Homo sapiens: one gene and its partner. The protein of the gene in region 2 interacts with the protein of the main gene of each other region in a pairwise test. Each region holds a gene or a part of one and is shown on either strand. Other genes may lie near its edges.

Region 1 (6,954 bases), on a different chromosome or scaffold from region 2:
TCCCGGGAGAAGCGGCGACGGCGGCGGCGCTCCGCCTCCCCGCCCCCGGCCACTTCCTCATCGTCGTCCTCGAGGCGCGAGCGGCACCGCGGGAAACACCGGGACGGTGGCGGCAGCAAGAAGAAGAAGAAGCGGTCGCGGTCCCGGGGTGAGAAGCGGTCTGGGGATGGCAGCGAGAAGGCCCCGGCGCCCGCCCCGCCGCCCTCTGGCTCCACCTCGTGTGGTGACCGCGACAGCCGCCGCCGGGGGGCCGTGCCACCCTCCATCCAGGACCTCACGGACCACGACCTCTTCGCCATCAAGCGGACCATCACGGTGGGCCGGCTTGACAAGTCCGACCCCCGAGGACCCTCTCCTGCTCCGGCCTCCTCACCTAAGCGGGAGGTCCTGTACGACTCCGAGGGACTGAGCGGCGAGGAGCGGGGCGGCAAGAGCAGCCAGAAGGATCGGCGCCGCTCGGGGGCCGCCTCCTCCTCCTCCTCTTCCCGGGAGAAGGGGTCTCGTCGGAAGGCGCTGGACGGGGGTGACCGGGATCGGGACAGGGACAGAGATAGGGACAGGGACAGGTCATCCAAGAAGGCCCGGCCCCCCAAGGAGTCGGCGCCTTCCTCAGGGCCCCCGCCAAAGCCACCAGTCAGCAGCGGCTCAGGCTCTTCATCCTCGTCGTCCTCCTGTTCTTCCCGGAAGGTGAAGCTGCAGTCCAAGGTGGCGGTGCTGATCCGCGAGGGTGTCAGCAGCACCACCCCGGCCAAGGATGCCGCGTCAGCCGGCCTGGGCTCCATTGGCGTCAAATTCAGCCGTGACCGCGAGAGTCGCTCCCCCTTCCTCAAACCTGACGAGCGGGCCCCCACTGAGATGGCCAAAGCAGCTCCGGGCAGCACCAAGCCCAAAAAGACCAAGGTCAAGGCCAAGGCAGGGGCCAAGAAAACCAAGGGGACCAAGGGAAAGACCAAGCCATCCAAGACCAGGAAAAAGGTCCGCAGTGGAGGTGGCAGCGGGGGCAGTGGTGGCCAGGTGTCGCTGAAGAAGTCCAAGGCGGATAGCTGCAGCCAGGCGGCAGGCACCAAGGGGGCGGAGGAGACTTCCTGGTCCGGGGAGGAGCGGGCAGCCAAGGTTCCTAGCACCCCGCCCCCCAAGGCAGCCCCACCACCCCCTGCCCTCACTCCGGACTCGCAGACCGTGGACAGCAGCTGCAAGACACCTGAGGTCTCCTTCCTGCCCGAGGAGGCCACTGAGGAGGCTGGGGTCCGAGGTGGGGCGGAGGAGGAGGAGGAGGAAGAAGAAGAGGAGGAGGAAGAGGAAGAGGAGGAGGAGCAGCAGCCTGCTACCACCACGGCCACCAGCACTGCTGCAGCCGCCCCAAGCACTGCCCCCAGCGCGGGGTCCACAGCCGGTGACTCGGGGGCGGAGGACGGGCCAGCTTCCCGTGTCTCCCAGCTGCCCACGTTGCCCCCGCCCATGCCCTGGAATCTGCCAGCTGGTGTGGACTGCACCACCAGCGGCGTCCTGGCCTGTGAGTGTCCCCTGGGGGAGGGTGGTGCTGGGGCAGGTGAGACAGGATGGGGACTGGAGGGTACAGACTTAGAGGCAGTGGGGTGCCCTGGCAGGGAGAGGTTTATAGGGACATAGACTGGGAGGGTGGGGGTGAGTAAAGGCCAGCCAGGCTCTAGGTGCCTGGGTGTACTGGGAGAGAGGGGCCGGTGAGAGCAGGTGGTGGCCAGCACAGACTGGAGTGGTGGGCTGGGTTCTGGGATTCCCCTAGACGGGGAGTAGGAGAGAGGGACCAGAAAGAATGGCTTGAGCAGGGCATCGTATTCCTTACGGATGGCGGTTGCCTCTACCAGACTGCAGAGGTGGGGAGAGAGGTTGGGACTGGCCACAGCGGGTCAGGAGGCAGAATCTCACTCCTGCCACTGTCTCATCACTGCATGACCCTGGCCAACCCCGCACCCACACACCTGGAGTCCCAAGAACATTCGTGGTATGGGCTGTTCTCTCATTGGCCAAGGCCCCCTTTTCCCAGTTCTGAGCGTGAGGCTTTGTGGCTGTTCTGGGGCCAAGGGCAGGAGATGACAGCAGGTGTCCAGGTGAGGTTCACCAGCTCCTGTCCTGTCACCTCTCCCATCTTCATGTTGTCACCTCTCTGCCTCCTGCAGTGACTGCACTTCTCTTCAAGATGGAAGAAGCCAACCTGGCGAGCCGAGCGAAGGCCCAGGAGCTGATCCAGGCCACCAACCAGGTGGGCTCCCCTGGGGGAGAGTCCCTGCCGCCCCTTCTTTTGTCCATTGCCTCGGGTTAGGAGAGGAACCGCGGGCCTGGCAGCTCTGGGGCAAGGTATCGGCCTGAAGAGGAGCCTGTTGCCTCAGCTGTGGGGAAGTCAGCGTGGGAACAGTGGGGTGCACGTCCCCTCTTCCCCTCCACCTCCCTTTACTCATCACCCCTCTGTCCTCGTCCCACAGATCCTCAGCCACAGAAAGCCACCCTCAAGTCTGGGGATGACCCCAGCTCCTGTGCCCACCTCTTTGGGTCTGCCCCCTGGCCCCTCCAGCTACCTGCTTCCTGGCAGCCTCCCTCTGGGGGGCTGCGGTTCGACCCCCCCCACCCCCACCGGGCTGGCTGCCACGTCTGACAAGAGAGAGGGCAGCAGCAGCTCTGAGGGCCGTGGGGACACAGATAAGGTGAGCTGGCCTGGGGAGAGGTGGGGCGGTGCTGACAGTTCTGTAGAGAATATGGACAGGAACTGAGACGCGGGGGCCCAAGGAGAAAGGGAGACTGAGGCAGGGAGACAGGGCCGTAGAGACCAAAGTCATGGAACCATAAGGAACTCCACTTTGCTGGAATGGGTGAGCAGGAAATGCGTTAGGCGTGTCCAAAGGAAAATCGCGTCTGTGCGTGTGTGGGGCTGTGTGCGTACACACCACATATACACACCCTGGAAGAGATGCCCCGCGCTGCAGCCCACCCCTTGATTATCTGTTGCTCGCGCTGTCTCCGTCTCTGTGAGTGGGGGAGGGTGGTTTCCGAATGAAAACTCAAGAACCTGTTTGTAGATGAAGCAGGGGAGAATGGGTGCCAGGCAGACAGTAATGTAGGTTCTTACTCAGCTGCTCTGGCCGGCTCCTACTCCTGGGCTCTGGAGCTGTTTCTCTCTTGGTCAGGTCTAGATGTGGGTTTTTGTTTTTGTTTTTCTTTGAGATGGAGTCTTGCTCTGTCACCTGGTCTGGAGTGCAATGGTGCCATCTCGGCTCACTGCAGCCTCCGCCTCCAGGGTTCAAGTGATTCTCCTACCTCAGCCTCCCGAGTAGCTGGGATGACAGGCACCCGCCACCACACCCAGCTAATTTTTGTATTTTTAGTAGAGACGGCATTTCACCACGTTGGCCAGGCTGGTCTTGACTCCTGACCTCAGGTGATCTGCCAGCCTCGGCCTCCCAAAGTGCAGGGATTACAGGTGTGAGCCACCGTGCCCGGCCTTGGTTGGTTGGTTTTTGAGACAGGGTCTCGCTTTGTCACCCAAGCTGGCATGCAGTGGCACAGTCACAGCTCACTGTAGCCTCAGCCTTGATCTCTCGGGCTCAAGGGATCCTCCTACGTCAGCATCCTGTGTAGCTAGGACTACAGGCACGCGCCACCATGCCCAGCTCATTTCTTAATTTTTTGTAGAGTTGGGGTCTCACTATGTTGCCCAGGCTGGTCTCAAATTCCTGAGCTCAAGTGATTCTCCCACCTCAGCCTCCCAAAGTGCTGGGATTATAGGCATGAGCCACTGCACCCAGCCTAGATGTGTTTTCTTACAGTCTAGTAGCCCATAGCCAGACGGTGACGTTGGCCACCCTTACACAGCTGTGTACCGTGCCAGATAAAGCTGTATAAACCCCATTAAACATCCTGTGTGAGCCGCAGAGGCGGGGCTGCAGTTTAGTCGGTCACTTGTCCGTAGCTTGTGCCTTGCGCTGCAGGACTCGGACGGTGAGGACCCCCTGGTCTACAGTGGCCCTTGCTCTGCCCTGGTCTGTGCTCTGCCCTTTGCCCCGCTTTGCCCATCCGAGATGGGTGTTGGGGAGCAGCGTCTCTCTAGAGACCCACATCCTGTGGGGCCAGGCAAGCCTGAGAAGTCCCTCCAGGGCAGCCTGTGTCTCTTCTGGCCACAGAGTTCCCTAACAGCTCAGTAGCTCGTCAGACAGTGTCACTGATGTTGCTCCTGGAGTCGGCTAGCCATTGTGCCCTGCCCTTCCCAGGACTCAGTTTACCTGCCCCTACTTTGATAGTCACCTGGCTTGGGAGGGCAGCTTCTCCAAGGGTGGTGCCAAGGGACTGTCCCTTGTGCCTGCAGAAGGCCTGTTCTTCTCTGGTCCCACGTGGCTCTCTGGCTAGAGGTTTCCTGTCTGCTTTTGCAAGGATTCTGCCTGAGGCCAGGGCTGCAGCTGCTGCCCCGAGCCTGCGGCTGCGGGATCTCCTAGCTTGCTGGCCACAGGCGGGAAGAGCCTTGCCTCGGAGGCTCTCTGCCCTGTCCCTGTTGCGTCCTCCCCTTTTCATCCCATGGCCATCCCCCTTGGAACAGGCACAGCTCCCCTGGATTGAGTCTTTGCTCTGTACCCAGCCTGTGCCATGTCCTCCATGTGTGTCGCTGTAGTACTGCCCATAGGTGCTGTCCCCGTTTTACAAATGAGCCACAAAGGTGGCCAGGCACGGTGGCTCATGCCTGTAATTCCAACACTTCGCAAGGCCGAGGCGGGTGAATCGCTTGAGCCCAGGAGTTCAAGATCAGCTTGGGCAACATAGTGAGACCTAGTCGCCACAAAAAGTACAAGAATTAGCCAGGCGTGGGGGTGGCACATCTAGTCCCAGCTATTCAGGAGGCTGAGGTGGGAAGATCGCTTTAGCCCAGGAGACCAGGGGTACAGTGAGCAGTGATTGTGCCACTGCACTCCAGCCTGCATGACAATGAGAGACCCTGTCTCAAAAACAAAGAAACAAAAAAGGAGCCACAAAAAGGTTTGGCTGAGCATCCCAGGGGTCAGAGACAGGGAGTGGCAGACCAGGCTTCTGATACAAATGGGCTCAAGGTCAGTCCCCACCCCCACTCCCCAGTGCCCCTCACCCCTAGCCACCCCCTCCATCCCCTGGGTGACCAGAGCAGTACTGTAAAAACCTAAACTGAGTCCTCCCCGCTCCCGCGGTGAAAAGCCCTGTGCAGTTTTCTACAGCCCCGCCTCTAGAGTCTGATTCAAAACCAGCTGCAATTTCTTGGCCAATGCCTGTCTTCTCATCAGACTGAACTTTGTGAGGGCAGGCGACACACATGTCCTGGTCCCGGCCAGGCCTGGAGCAGCCCAGGGTTCGGCCTGGAGGAGATGTTCAGTGACATGCAGAGGCCCAGGCCTGGCCTTTGGTCCCGGGCACCTGCAGCAGAGGGCGCATGGGACAGACCCTCAGCAGGACTTCCAGCCTGAGAGCAGCTGGACGGCCAGAGAGGTTAGGCTGGCAGCAGAGGCGAGTGGAGGTGGAGGTTCCGCAGGTACTCACTGGCCCTTGCTGTGTCTTCCCCCGCTGTCGCCACCCCACCAGTATCTGAAGAAGCTGCACACGCAGGAGCGGGCGGTGGAGGAGGTGAAGCTGGCCATCAAGCCATACTATCAGAAGAAGGACATCACCAAGGAGGAGTACAAGGACATCCTGAGGAAGGCCGTCCACAAGGTGGGCACCCGGAGAGAGGGGCAGACACAGGCCGGGGAGAGAACGAGCTGGAGGGACAGATGTGTGCAGACAGATGGACGCGGATGGGAGACGGGGAGGAGGTCAGTCTGGGAGGTGAGGAGGGTGACAGGATTTTCTCAAGGCCACCTGGGCCTGTTCCGCTGGCCCTGGGGCACCCATCGTCTAGGGGGACAGAGGGACTTTGGCCTGGTTATTGGGGAAGCTCCTCCTACCGCAGTTCCAAGCTGCGCCCAACAGTCCTGGGTGGATGGGGCCCCGGGAGCCTGGTGGTGACTCCAACTGTCCCCGGCCCCCCAGATCTGCCACAGCAAAAGTGGGGAAATCAACCCAGTGAAGGTGAGCAACCTGGTGCGGGCCTACGTCCAGCGCTACCGCTACTTCCGCAAGCACGGTCGCAAGCCAGGGGACCCCCCAGGGCCCCCACGGCCGCCCAAGGAGCCAGGGCCCCCAGACAAGGGTGGCCCGGGCCTGCCCCTGCCCCCTCTCTGAGAGCCCTGGCCAGCTCTTCGCCCCTCACCTCTTTGAAACTCTGGACGTATTTATGGCTCCACCTCCCCACCTCCCTCCCCCGTCAGTGGGATGACTGGGGGAGGGTTGCTGCAGGGAAGAGGAGAGCCCCCTGCCCTGCCCTGCCCCGTGTCCACCTCCCTTGCCCCCAAGCCTGTCCCCAGTGCCCCTCCCTTCTGTTTGTGCCCCTCTCCCCAATTTCATTAAAGATTTCATGAAACATTACCCCTGAGCCCCATGGTTCTAACCCTTTGTTTTCGGAGACAAATTTGCCAGAGGGTTGGGGAGGGACCCCCAGGAGGCTGAGGATGGGAGACAGAGACCAGACTGTGACTTGGGGCAGCTGCCTCCCCTGGGCCTCAGTTTTCTTATCTGTGTAGTGGGTGTTGTGATGATTGAACAAGACACAGGTGGAGCACTTAGCACAGTCTCTGGCTGGGAGCGAGCTGCTCACAGGGAGGCAGGGGCCGGACCCCACCTGATCAGCATCTTCCCAGCTCGGCTCCTGGGTGCCATGTGCCTGCCTTGGAATTGCTCCCAGAGCAGGATCTGTGTTCCCCATTGAGTTGGCTTCTCTTTTCAGCAGCCCCGTGAAGCTGGGGTGATCTCATCAACTGTCCTGAGAGGGAAACTGAGGCACAGAGCAGCAAGGGCCGAAGGGTGAGTCAGGGCTGCGCTGGCTTCTGCCAGTTTCATCACCCAGAACTGCGGCCCAACCAGGAGAGGTGA
Region 2 (7,994 bases):
AGAGTAGGATCTGGTGTGAGCTCTGCCATGGATTTGTTGTGTGACCTCCAGCAAGCCCAGTGCCCTCTCTGGGTTCTTGGTTACTTGGTCAGTAAATGCACATTTGGACTAAATGGGTGTGTGAGACACCCCCTAGCCTTCAATGCCCTGGACCCCCAGCCTTACTTTGCAACGACCTAGGAAGAGATACCATAGATAGGGGCACAGAAGCAGTGGGCATGCCAGGGGACTTCAGAACAGCTGGGGGAGGGGTCAGATTGCAGGGTGGGGCCCAGAGGACGGCTCACACCCTGGGAAGGGAGCTGAGGACAGTCCCAGCCCTGGGAGGGGCAGACAGCTGGCAGACAGGGTCGAGTTGCGGGGCAGGCCTTGGAGCTGGGAACAGCTGGGAGAGTTTTGTACACTCCTCGCCCATCCCTGGTTCTGTGTGCTCCAAGTGCCATCAAGGCCCTGGGGACCTCAGCTCCCCCACCCCCTGGCTTCTGGGCCACTCCCCAGTGACTGTCTCCTCAGTAAGGCAGGAGGGAACCTCTAAGAAAAAGCTGGCAACAGGTGCATGGGTGGGATGGCAAGAGTGAGAGCCGGCCCTGAGTCCTGGACTTGCCACACTGTGCTGTGGGCTGGCTGGCCTCAGCCTCGGTGCCCGAGGGTGGTTATGGACCTACAGAAGATGTGCAGGGCCTGAGAGCAGCCATCTGCATTAGGTGGGGCAGGGAGAGCGGGCCTGGCCTCTGTGCTCAGCAGCCCAGGCAGTGTCACCCACCCCCGGTGACACAGCCCGCCCTGCTCCCAAGATCTCAGGCCAGGAAGGGTCTGCCCATCACAGGGAGCAGGACTTCTTGCCACCCTAAGGGCCCAGGGAGCAGATGTGGCCCACTCTTCCCACCCCGACCAACCCTGCCACACCGACGCCATCTTCCCGGGTTTGCCATCCAGTGCTGAGAGCATCTCTCTAAAGGCCCCTAAGCTCCCCTAACCTAAGGCCTTGGCTTGCCAGGAGTGTCATGGGGAGCAACGCACAGACCTGTGGGTGCCCAGCATCAGAAGACACACTTTAGGGTCACACCTGTGGCCTTGGCCTAAGTGGGTTAGAGGAGCGTCTGGCCACACCCTGGACTTAGGGCTGCAAGCTCCGGGGTGGCCCTTGGCCTCCTTAGAAGTCCAAGCTGCTCTCTTGGAGCAGTGGCACCTGGTTCCCAAGGTTACTGTGCCTGGGAGGTCCCTTCCCAGTAGCAACCACAGCCTAGAACACTGCCCACAGCCTGGCCCTCTAGAATGGCCCCGCCCAGCTGCTTTTGATCTTTGTTGAACTAAAGTCAGCTGAGCCCCGCTAGGGAGCCAGGAGCGCCAGGCCCAGAAAAGCAGCAGCCGCAGCCGTAGACATGTCCAAGATGTTTTCTGGTGGTGCATCTTCAGCAGGGAGGCGGGAAGGGAACAGGTGTGGGCAGGCAGAGCTGAGCAGGGGTGCAGGAGGCCGCCTCCGGGCCCCAGATGGCATCTCAACTGTGGGAAGAGTCCCCCTGCCCTGGTCCTGCCCAGCAGGCTGGTGGCCACCTGAAGCAACTGTCAGGCTCTGGCCGTTGACTCTTCCTGCTGGACTGAACTCATGGCCAAGAGTTCGTTTTGGGGGAGCTCCTTTTTGTCTCCCCCAAAATGGCCTCCTTTATTTCCACCCTCAAGCTGCTGGGCCCCGGCTGGCCTCACGTTGGAGGGGCAGAACTGTAGCCACAGTGGCACCTGCCAGATACCTAAGCTGGGGCTGGATACCAGGTGAAGCTCTTACACATCGTGTCAAGGCATCTTGGCAGCCACCCCAGGGCCGCTCCTTAGGTAGCCCTCGCTTTGCAGATGAGGAAACAGTCACATGCTCAAGTCACACCGCTAGGAAGCGGTGGAGTTATGGTTGGGTCCAGGTCTGTCTAGATCCTGTGCTCTGCCAGTGCCTGCACCCCCCTTCCCGGCCCCGCCGATTGGCATCTTTTCATAAACTTGAAGGGCCCCAAGACTCTCTGCTTAGCTGAGCAGCCCACAGTCTTCCTGAGACCCCTTCCCAGGTCCACCAGGCCTCAGGGCCTGGAAACAGATACTTCCTAGCCCACATGGATCTGCTCCTCCAAACCAGTGAGGCCAAAGGGAGGGAGCAGAACATTTCATGAGACACTGCTGGAGGGTGAGTAGGAACAGGACAGGAGCCCAAGGGGATCTCATCGCCAGGGGCAAGCTAAGCACTGGGCTTGACAGGGACAGCAAGGCTACCGCATTGCACCATTATAGGGAGCATCATGCACACTAGCTGTGCAGTGCACAACCTGTGTTGCTGTACAGAGCAACTGGAGAGGGTGGCAGCAACAGGAATGTAGGAGCTGTAGGCATGTCCAGTGGTGAGACCGGCATTCCTCCTCCCAGGGACAGTGAGTGACTGCAGGCCTTGGGGCCCCAACACTCAAAAACAAATGTCCTGCCAAGTGGAGGGCCCGGCAGAGGCTCTTCAGCAATTCCCATTTTCCCCAGTCCTAGCCCTGCCTCTCAGAGAAAGGGCCAAGCTGCCACCTCCCCCTTCTCCCCAGACCCTGTTCCAGGCCCCAGCTGGCTTCCTGGCTGGCTGCTAGCCCTGGCTTTCACCCCAAAGGGAGCCACTCGTAAACAGGAAATGCTTCCCAATGCGATGCCTGCTCTGGGCGCCATCGCCAGCCCACAGGCCGAGGGCAATAGCCAAGCAGCAGTGTTAGCTGTTCCCACCAACTGCGGAAGAGGGGGATGCTCAGGGGCTTCCCAGCTCTGGGGCCCGCCATGACGGAAGAGTTGCCAGGCCTGAGACAGACGCCCACAGGCCGAGCCCACCAGCCTGTGGCTCTGCCTCTGACCCCACTGCCCTCCAGCAGTAACCCCCCTGTGAGCTGATCCCTGACACTGAGCATTTCTGCTCCCTCTTCCCAGAGACAGTCTAAAGGCAGCCCCCAAGTCCCAGAAAGCTGACTCCCCTAGCATCGACTACGCAGAGCTGCTGCAGCACTTTGAGAAGGTCCAGAACAAGCACCTGGAAGTGCGGCACCAGCGGAGCGGGCGTGGGGACCACCTGGACCGGAGGGTTGTCCTCTGACAGGCCTGGCACGGAGGAGGGCCCACCGAGTGGTCCCATGAAACACTAAGGGTCGTCACGCCCTCCCGAGGAGCTCAAGGACCTGCCTGTCAGGACCAGGGCTGGGCCTGCCAACCCAGGGCAGTGTTGGGGCCGGAGGCTGCTGTGTCTGCCCAAGCTCCTCTCAGAGTCCAGTCCCCAGGCCTCCAGCGCTGTCAGCTGCACCCTGGCATTCTCACAGAGCTGGCTGCCCACCCAGTGGGGGGCTATAGCCTCAGAGACCACTCATCCTCTGGAATCAACCTCTTTCTAATACCCTCTTGGAAAAAGAGCTTGCCCCTCCTCCAGCACACTAGAGCTCTGGCCTTGTGTGTATATGTATACATACGTGAACACATGCCTGTGTGTGTGTGTGTGTGTGTGTACTTGTATGCACGTAGGCACCAGCACAAAGATCTGAATGATGCACCCCACCCCCACCCCAATAAAGAAATAACAGAAAACCCTCAACCCGAGCCGGCCTGCTCCTTCCCAGCTGACACGTGCAGCTGTCCGGGGGCCTCACCCTCTGTCCTGGAGATCGGGTTTCATGATGGCCCCAAGGAGTACTGGCTGCCCCAGGGCCTGGTCCCTGCACTCACCTGAGTGGAGCCATGGGCCTAGAGCCTAGGTCCCCACCTCTGGAACCTGCACCCTCCTGGAGAGCACCATGCACTGCCTGCCCTGGAATCCTGAACCCTGCCTTCCCCAATCTGCCTTTCTCATCCTGACTCCCTGGGGCAATGGGAGTTCCCCACTGGGGACATGGGAGCTGAGCCCCAGGAGTTCCTGGATGAAAGGGCAATGCACACTGCAGAACACTTTGCAGATCTCGGGGCAAGGGGAGGAAAAGCCCAGAGCAGTCCAGGGAGGGGCAGGTGCCCCAACCACTGCTGCAGCTGAAAGCCCTTCCTCACCGGGAGTGGTACCACCTGTCCCCAGGCTTTGGGAACCCTGGGCTTGGTCTCCTAATGAGCTTGTAATTGGCTCCCTCCGGCCCATGGAGTAGGCGAGAAGGAGCTTGTGCCTGCTCTTCCCCAGAGTGCGCTCCCCCATCGTGCTGCCCCCCAGGGTGGGTTTCCCTGCCTGGAGTCTCCAGGACAGGCTGCGATTGACATTGCTACCCCATGCACGTGTGTGCATCGCACCCACCGTGGACTCAGGCAGCAGAGACCAAGGACACTCCAGCTCTGCTCTGCAGGTCCGACATTAGCCCCCACCCGCGAAGAAGGAGGTTGTTCAAGGCCCAGGAGACTACCACTGCCCCCCAAATGCCCAGCCTTGGGCACCCCATCCGGGTGGCATCGGCACCACTTGGAGAAGGAGCCAAGGAACTTGGAAGGGTCCGAACTTGAGGAAGGTCTGTGCCTGCGATGAAACGTCCCAAGGCGGGCGGCTCCACGATACCCCGCGCCCTGCTGTGTGCGGTGTATGCCACCCATCCAGCCCATGCACCGACCCCATCCCGCCACTGTACCCACTGCCTGTCTTTAGAAGCGCGAGAAGCCCCCCGCCCCAGACCAAAGGCCAGAAGATATCGTGGAGCCCCTGCCCGGGGGCCGAGGCCCAACCGCCAGTCCCGCTCCTGCGTGGGCAGGGCGGGCCCCGCCCAGCGCCGCCCCCCGACCCTCGGTGGCGCCCGCGCCCGTCGGCCCCGCTCGCCGGACCAGTCTGGCAGCGCCCGGGCTCGGATTTCAAAGCCCTGGTTTCTGGCCGTGAATGGGCCTGCGCCCGCGCGGCCGTTCCCACAGCCCCCTCCCGCGCGGCCCGCCCTCCTTCCCTCCCTCCTCGCGGTCCCCCCTCCGCCGCGCCCACGTGACGCCCGATCCTCGGCGGCTCGGATTACCGCCGCCGTCAGTCCCCGCGCCGAGGCTGCGCCGCGAGCTGCCCGCGCCGCGCCCCCCGCGCCGCCCGCCAGCCCCGCTGCGACATGGCCCGCGCCGCCCGCCGGAGGCCCGCGACCCCGGAGCGCGGCGCGGCCGGCCGCTGAGCGCAGCCTGGAGGCGGGAGGCCCGGCCCGGCCTCGGAGCGAGCGCCCGCGCGGCCTGGCCCCCTCCCTTGCGCTGCTCCCCGCGCTCCGTGCGCCTAGCCGCCGCCGCGGCCCGGCCCAGCCAGAGCATGGAGACGGCGGAGAAGGAGTGCGGCGCCCTGGGCGGGCTCTTCCAGGCCATAGTCAACGACATGAAGGTAACCGGGGCGCGGCGGGGCCGGGCGCGCGGCGACGGGTGCGGGACCCCCCGGGGACGCGTGGCGGCGGGTGGCCGAGCCTCGTGTGGCCGCGCGCCGCGGTGTCTGTGTGTCCTTGTCTGAGCGCGTCCTGCCTGCGTCTGCTGGGCGCCCGTGTCTCCGGGTGCCCGTCTGGGGGTGTGGGTGCTCGTGTGTCGGGGTGTCCGTGCGGTGCCCGCGGTGGCCCCGTGGGGTCCTGACCCGAGCCTGTGCACACGCAGGCTCCCTGCGCCCCAGACCGCCAAACCATGAATGGGGTTTGGATCCAGGACCGACTCTAGGGCCCTTTAACGAGTCCGGGGTCTTACCGGCCTCCGCCCCCTTCCACCACCATGTTCCCCCACGGCCCCGGAGCCCAGACAATGCTGTCACCGCCAAAGCAGGAAAAAATAATAAAGCGGAGAACCGTTAACTCCTTCCCCGCCGACCTAGGCCTCTGCACCCGACCGTGAGACTGCGTCCCCCAGCCCCGCCCCACCCCCACAGCCCCAGGAAGCTCCAGGACTCCAAGGTCTCCAGGCTGAATGTCCCTGCATCCCAAGGATAGGCCTTGATCATCACCTTGGGAGGAGGCGGGATGAAGGTTGGGGTCGGTGGAGCAACCCCAAGGAAGCGCTTTTCCTACCCCATTACCACCCTGGGCTCTCAGCTCCGAGCCCTCCTTGTCTCCCAGGATTGCTTAAGGTCAGGCTGGATCCAACCACCCATTCATTCCTCACCCCACCAGGTGGGGAAACTGAGGCCTGGAAATGGCTCAAGGTCACTAAGGAGACTATTGGACCCTTCCCCTGACCTCAGCCCCCATTTTTCCTCCTGGGAAAATTAGTGGGTTCCTCTCCCCAAATGAGGCCAGGGTTTGGCAGGGCTGCCCTACGCTGACTAGGCAGAGAGGGCCCAGCTCCAGTGATAGGGTGGGGGCCAGGAACCAGTATTCCTGCCCTCCTGCCGTGCCCCCTTTCCTTAGCCTAGGATGAAGGGGCAGGATTTGGGGGCTGGGAGAAGGGGAAAGAACGAGGCACCCCACAGGATCTCCCAAGGGCCCCCACCCCCACAGCCCAGCGCAGATTCTCCAAGTGCACAACACAGAATCCCACCAGGCCAGGGATGGGGGTGACACCACCCAGTACAGTGCTGCTAGGACAGGCCCCGTGAGGGGTGGGGGTTGCTGGCAGGTTGGAGTTCGAGGCTCCCGGTGCTGCCAGGACAACAGCCCCAGGGACAGCTGCCAGATCTCTGCCCCCGGAAGAGGCCTGAAGCCAGCCTGGCCTGGGACTACCCAGTTAGCGGCTTGTAGATGCCCCCCACCCCCTGCCCCTCATGGTGCACTCCCCCTGGGACCCCCATCTCTTGCAACTGTACATCTGGGCCCCTCCGCTGGCCCCCAGCAGTCCCCACCTGTCCTGTGGACATCACAGCCCTGGCCCCAGGATCCTGTTAAGGGACTGGGCAACACAGACCACCCTCCCCTGGCCGATCCCAGAGCTGGCTCCGGATGGGCCTTCCCGCACCCCACCACCCACCACCACTGGCAGCCTCATAGCAACCACTGCAGAGAGCAGCAGATTTTGCTCGTGGAAGTGGACTAGGACAGTCTCTCTCCCTCTCCAGCCAATTTGCAAGGAACTTTGGGATGAGACAGAAGGAAGTGGGCCCAGATCATAGCAAGAGGTTCAAGCCAGACATCGGGCATGATTTGCTGACATGTGGAGGCAAAACAGGAGAGGCTTCACCTGGGATGATGCCAAGGACAGATTCGCCCCTACCTATGACACAGGCATGTGTTCAGGGGCCATGACCAGGGGCAGAGAAGGGGATGAGGCCACCTGGAAGCTGACCACCTGGATTTGCGGGGGCAGCTTCTGGATTTTCCCCTCGGTGGCCTGAGCAGCAGGGCCTCCGTAGAGGAAGGGCGGCCATCAGCAGCCAGGTTGAGGAGACTGAGCTTGCCCCGTGAGGCCACCCCACAGTGAGTCCACAGGCCCCACAGAAGCCCTCCCCTGGGCCTCTGGGAGGCCCTGACCTTGGGCTGAGCGGGGGCCAAGGTCAGATGCCCACTGGTGTCAGGCTGCCCATTGAAACCCAGAGAGGGGCAGAGACTTGCCAAAGGTCATAGTTCTGGGCACGGCACCTTCAGCAAGGTGAATGGGGCCTCCACCCAGTGCTGGCCCAGCCAGAAAATGGGGTCATACTCTTCACCCACCCCTCAAGAGTGGGGAATGTCACCTGGACACATAGGCCTGGCCAGGCCTCTGCTAGGGGCCCCTGCAGAGGGCAGGGCTTGCGTACTGTTAGCTGGTGTTAACTGAGCACTTACTGCGTGCTGGGCGCTGCGAGGAGTGCTGGCTGAGCAGCACCTGCTTCAATTTCCACACTGACCCAGTGGGGCAGGTGCTCCTCCTCTCCTGATTTTACAGGTGAAGAAACTGAGGCTCAGACAGGGGGCCCTTGCCCAGGGGCACCTGGAAAGCCCACTCCCTGGGATTGGAGGCTGGATTGCTCACCCACACTCCACATCTGAACCACAGCCACTGCCGGGACAGAGACAGAGTCCCCTCATCCCTGTCCACTTGGGCGCCTCTAATGAGAAGCCCCTCACCTCCCCACTCCAGAGCAGCCACTGTGCTTGGGGCAGAACTGGGTGTCTCTCACA

What was found. The genes of interacting proteins can lie anywhere in the genome.
Region 1: the proteins of MTSS2 (region 2) and SCAF1 interact in binary tests that used the Homo sapiens proteins (3 or more experiments, as listed by UniProt).

Annotation. Positions count from the first base shown.
Region 1 is NC_000019.10:49,652,193-49,659,146, forward strand, and holds the end of SCAF1 (splicing factor, arginine/serine-rich 19), read left to right. Parts: coding exon 1-1,513; intron 1,514-2,156; coding exon 2,157-2,239; intron 2,240-2,459; coding exon 2,460-2,678; intron 2,679-5,568; coding exon 5,569-5,697; intron 5,698-6,015; coding exon 6,016-6,207; 3' UTR 6,208-6,450; downstream 6,451-6,954.
Region 2 is NC_000016.10:70,683,034-70,691,027, reverse strand, and holds the start of MTSS2 (protein MTSS 2), read left to right. Parts: upstream 1-4,974; 5' UTR 4,975-5,236; coding exon 5,237-5,305; intron 5,306-6,952; exon of another isoform or gene 6,953-6,974; coding exon of another isoform or gene 6,975-7,118; intron 7,119-7,994. UniProt on the Homo sapiens protein: Involved in plasma membrane dynamics. Potentiated PDGF-mediated formation of membrane ruffles and lamellipodia in fibroblasts, acting via RAC1 activation. May function in actin bundling.